Regions from separate parts of the Homo sapiens genome. Here region 1 is linked to region 2. Evidence: fine-mapped expression QTL. A gene starts in region 2. The other region holds a variant in brackets. All regions are shown on one strand. Distances are between the middles of the regions.

The links.
Region 1: its variant is fine-mapped to the expression of NPL in whole blood (TOPMed, PIP above 0.99).

Annotation. Positions count from the first base shown.
Region 1 is chr1:183,155,342-183,158,263 of GRCh38, reverse strand. No RefSeq gene overlaps it. Among named protein-coding and RNA genes, the nearest start is that of LAMC1-AS1, 16 kb to the right of the region's middle. The variant T/C (reference allele first, on the strand shown) is at 1,857.
Region 2 is chr1:182,788,117-182,791,038 of GRCh38, reverse strand. It overlaps NPL (N-acetylneuraminate pyruvate lyase), which reads right to left and starts at 1,266. Exons shown (of 13, transcript NM_030769.3): 1 at 1,234-1,266. RefSeq lists an enhancer at 1,113-1,613.

The DNA of each region.
Region 1 (2,922 bases), 370 kb before region 2:
TGCCTCAACCTCCCGAGTAGCTGGGACTACAGGCGCCCGCCACCACGCCTGGCCAATTTTTTGTATTTTTAGTAGAGATGGGGTTTCACCATGTTGGCCAGGCTGGTCTCAAACTCCTGACCTCAGGTGATCCACCTGCCCTGGCCTCCCAAAGTGCTGGGATTACAGGCATGAGCCACTGTGCCTGGCCGTCACTGGTTTTATGAGAACAACATCACATTACAAGAGTGGCCAACATGATCAGCCAAAAACTAGAACATGGACAATGAGCATAGGGAGCATGAGTTCTCTCTGGGAATACAGACCACAGGGCTTGGTCTCCAGGACATCAATACACAGAGAGGAATGGATGAGAGGAAAACCAGAAAAACTCAACTTCTCAGTGGCATATCACTGAATCTCTGTCCATGCATTTTCATATCTGGATCAATGTCCCCAAGCTCATTTTCTAGATTATATTCTCTCCAACACAGCTAAAAATATACCCTTTCATACAAATACAATTTGTCCTTGAAAGACTTCTCATAATGAACAGTCTTGAACATTCATTATATACACATTGATTAGATAGACATAAATATAGATATATTTCCCTGTGCATTTTTAAATTAACATGCTCATGTATTTCTATTTTATGAAAATACATTTTCCTCTATTTTTGGTATACAGTAGTCTCCACTTATCCATGGGCTTGCTTTCTGTGGTTTCAGTTAACTTGCAGACAATCATGCTACAAAAATATTACATGGAAAATTCCAGAAGTAAATAATTCATTTTAAGTTGTGTGTTGTTCTGAGTAGCGTGATAAAATCTCGTGCCATCCTGCTTCGTCCCACCCAGTACATGCATCATCCCCTCGTATAGTATACCCACATCGTATATGCTACCCTGCCCCTTTGTCACGAAGTAGCCATCTCAGCAAATTGCAAATATAGTATATAATAGTGTTTGGTACTATCTATGGTTTCAGGCATCCACTGTGGGTCTTGGAACATATCCCTTGTGGATAAGGGGGTGACTACTCTACTGTTTTTCATGTTTTATTTTTTGCTGCCTTCTTGTCTTGTTTCATGAAATAGAAAAAAATTGTCTTTGTCACAGTGTAAAACCCATAGGTACCAGTAGGGTAGGCTACAAGAGCCATAGGTGTTCCAAAAGTATTTGTTGATAATGCATTTTTAAAAAGCAATCATCTATAGGGAAAGAAAAGGCCATGTCCCCTAAAGCCAATTAGTCTAATGAGCTATTTGCTTAACATTTCAGCATCACTTTTGAGAGTTTTACATCCATTTGAGCAACCTATTTTTTGTTATTTTTGTTGCTCTTGGTCAATGGCATTTTGAGAATTAAAGAAACCTATGTTTGCTTCTTGTCGAAACAGCTGATTCCAGGACTAAGGCAAGGAAGGTACAAGATTAGCCTGAAATGTCTTGATATACCGAAAGTAAAACAACACTCAAAGAATGACGGGGATGTATCAGAGGATCACAGGAGCCAGTCTAAAGATACTCCCAGCAGGCGGAGATTGCAGTGAGCTGAGATCGCACCACTGCACTCCAGCCTGGGCGACAGAGCGAGACTCTGTCTCAAAAAAAAAAAAAAAAAAAAAAAAAAAAAAAAAAAAAAAAAAAAAAAAAAGATACTCCCAGCAAAAGGAAATAATTAGCAGATTGAAGAGACAACCTACAGAATGGGAGGAAAACTTTGAAAAATATGCATCTGACAAGGGGTTAATATTCAGAAATTACAAGGAACTCAAACAACTCAATACCAAAAAAGCAAATATGGCTGACCCTTAAACAATGCAGGAGTTAGGGGTGCTGACCCCCATGCAGCCAAAAATTTGCATTTAACTT[T/C]TGACTCCCTCCAAACTTAACTACTAATAGCCTACTATTGACTGAAATCCTGAATGATAACATAAACAGTGAATTAACACATTTTGTATGTTACATATCCTCTATGATTACAATAGAGTACGCTAGAGAAAAATAAAACATTATTAAGAAAATCCTAAGGAAGAAAAAGCACATTTATAATACTGTACTGTATTTATGAATACCATAAATTTACATAATCTGTTTATAAGATGAATCATCTATCTGAAATGGTAGCAACTACAGCTGCAGACTTCGATCTACAGTACATGTCAAGCAATTCAACTTTCTCTTGTAACATCATGACTTTTCTTTGCTTCTTGGGAGCACTTCCAGTATCATTAGTGGCAGTTCATATGGGTCCAATGGCATTATTTAAGGTTTATGGTATTACACTAAACATGATGACAAAGATGTGGGAAGTGCAAGAGATCACTTTTTTCTGTGATACACAATTTACTGAAGAGATGAACAGTTCATGTGGAGATGATTAGTGTCATAGGGTGTTTTAAGCAGACACTCACAACACTTGTGCTCACAGCAAGAGCAACAGGAGGTGGCAATAAAATTATTACAGTAGTACAGTATGTACTGGGGTAAATTTTATGCAGTTATGATTTAATACTGCATCTTTATGTTTGTTTATGCTTCTCTTGACTGTAAATGGCACCACATACAGCCTGTGTTTGTGCGTGTAAATTGAAATAAATTTTAACTTGTTTTTGTTTTTGTTTGAGATGGAGTCTCACTCTGTCGCCTAGGCTAGAGTGCAGTGGCGCAATCTCTGCTCACTGCAACTTGCAACCTCTGGGTTCAAGCAATTCTCCTCCCTCAGCCTCCCGAGTAGCTGGGATTACAGGTGCCTGCCACTGCACCCGGTTAATTTTTGTATTTTTAGTAGAAACAGTGTTTCACCATCTTGGCCAGGCTGGTCTGGAACTCCTGACCTCGTGATCCACCTGCCTTGGCCTCCCAAAGTGCTGGGATTAGAGGCGTGAGCCACCACGCCCGGCCAACTTTTTTTTCTTTTTCTTTGAGACGGAGTTTT
Region 2 (2,922 bases):
AAAATTTCTTTGCACAGATAACTACACTACGTAAAAGTTTGCTGCCTTTGCAAACTTTGAAACGCCTACAGGAAGAAATGGGATAAAAACGACTTTGGCCGGGCGCGGTGGCTCAAGCCTGTAATCCCAGCACTTTGGGAGGCCGAGGTGGGCGGATCACCTGAGGTCAGGAGTTCGAGACCAGCCTGGCCAACATGGCCAAACCCCGTCTCTACTAAAAATACAAAATTAGCCGGGCGTGGTGGCGGGAGCCTGTAGTCCCAGCTACTCGGGAGGCTGAGGCAGGAGAATGGCGTGAACCTGGGAGGTGGAGCTTGCAGTGAGCCGAGATAGCGCCACTGCAGTCCGGCCTGGGCGACAAGAGCGAGACTCCGTCTCAAAAACAACAACAACAACAACAACAACAACAACAACAACAACAACAAAAGACTTTAACAGAGAATGATCAGTATTTTTAAGATTCAAGTTTTTAATAAACTTGGGAATGTTATGCTTTGAAGCATAACAGATAATTATCATTATTTTTAAGATTCAAGTTTTAGATAAACTTGGGAATGTTATGCTTTGAAGTTTTCAGAGCTCGTAGCTAAAGCGAATAGCTCAAATGTTCTCCAGCCTAAGGCTTAATGTGAATTTAGATTATTACTGAAACATTGGGAGGGGGTATTACTCTTGAAATCTTATACCTCCATCCACAGATAAGAACACTCAGTGCAAAGAATTAAAGCTGCCTAAGTCAAATTCTTTTTTAAATGGCAAAGTTGTTTTTTTAAGAGACAGAAAGTGAGGGCAGAATGTACCTCTGGGCAGAGAATATCTTGAGGGACAGGTACTCGGAGAAGAGGAGATACAAATAGGGATTTTTAAAAAAGCAGAAAACCACCAATTTCTCCTCAAGTGAAGGGGGGATGTATCAGGTTTAACTTTAAGCTCTCTTCTGCTCAATTGCTAACTCTATTTTGAGGAAAGGACCTTTGGAGACCCGGCAGATATGCTGTCTGCAAACAATCCGGGGGAGTAAGTTCTTCTGCCCCCGTCTGTCCCTACACTTTTCGCATTCACACCTTCCCCAGATCCGTTTCCCAGCGTATCTGCCTTCCCTCTTTCCTCCGGGTCCGTCAACGTCTCACCCACCCGCGAGTCAGGCCCCAGCGCCCCTCCGCCCGAACGCCCAGGTCGTCGGGCCGTCTGCGTCCGTCTGTCCTAGCCCGTGCCGTCGCGGGCCGCGCTCACCCAGGCCTCCGCTCTTGTCCGTGCAGCCGCTCCGCCCGGCAGCCGCCGCCGCGCTTTATATCCGCGGCCGCCCGGCTCGGGCCCACGTGCCGCCACGCCAGGGAGCCTGGGGGTTGTAGTTCTGCGCCGCCGCCCGCGAGGCGCGCCCGGAACCGCTGGCCCGGAAACCCCGAAACGTTTTGCACACTGGAGTCTGCTCTTCCCCGGGTGTCACCTGAACAACATGGGCTGAAGTGACTCCGGCGCAGCGCCCCGGCTCCCCGAGGATCGGAAGCATCCGAACTGGCGGCCGGGTGCCCGAGAGCACGCGGCTCACCCGCGCCACGCCGAGTGCAAACCTCCCCCTGCCTCGTCTGCACGCCAGTCCTTCCCGCGTGCGGGCACCTCCTGGGCTCCGCTGCGTCTTAATTTTCCTTCTCTTGCGCAGGGCTCTGCAATCCCCACTATCTCGTGGTTCTGCGTTGTGAGGTTTGGGCTGCTGTTTCCGAGGCGTACGGAGAATCCCAACTGCCCATCGGCGTTCAGGTCTCTTCGGGTTGACGCCGCTGCACCAGCCCTGCAGACTCTCGTGTTAAAGAGAGATGAGCGAATTTTAAAGTGAATTATCTACTCATACGGGAGCTTTCCTGGCTTCTTTTGGAGAACATTTGAAAGAGTTTTGAAAGGGAAAATTATTTTTAACCCAACCGCCTCTACTTTCAGGAGTATCAGGAGTCTTATTCTAGGATCATGTACTGTGTGAATAAATCAGGAACAGAGCCAGAGACAAGTCCTCAGTTTTCTCTTGCTGATGTGATTCCACCTCAATTTTCCATAAAAGGCGATGGCTGATGCTTATTATTACATTTAGAGAAACTAAATTGTTCAAAGGGCTTTCTAGTTTGCAAAGTGCTTTTAAATGTATTCTAATAGTTCTTTCGTTGCACAGAGCACCAGAGATAATAGCTAATAAGTACTGTGTTCAGTGCTTACTCAGCCTGCACCGTTCTAGCTGTTTTAACATTTAATTCATAAAATAATCCCATTGGTGGGTCCTGTTTTATAAATGTATATATTACAGATGAGCAAGGATCATTCCATTTTACAGATCAGAAACAGGTTTAAAGAGTTGAAGTAATTTGCCAAAAGCCATAGAGCTGGTTAAGCTGTGGTTTGATTTCAAGTAGTCCAGAAGCTTGTGCTTTTAACACTATGTTATCCTACAGGAAAAAAAAATACAAAAAGAAAAGAAAAAGAAAAACCCTTAGTTACATGAAGCAAGTTCTCCTAAGGCTGCAGCATGGTTTTTGTTTTGGTTTGGTTTTTGTAATATTAACAAGAATATTATATCCTAATGGTACAATGAAAGTTTTTTTTTTTTTTGGAAAGTCACAGTTTAATAAGTGCAAAATTAAGTATGTCAGTACCCAAAAGGTATAGGTCATTAGGCTTAACATTGTCAACCAACAAACCAATATTCTAAATGCATGAACTAACTACTTTTTGTATAAATATGGTAGTGCAAAGTAATTCCTTATAATAATTTGTTAGTGTCTACCAAGAAGCAGATGCTAAGATGGGATTAGATGTGCAAGAAACTTACTGGGGGAGGGATTTGGAGCAGACAGGAGCAGCCTGCAGACTGATGTAGGGCTGACATCTGTGGAACAAAAGATGGAAGAAAGGAGCATGGAGTAGGGAGAGTCTCAC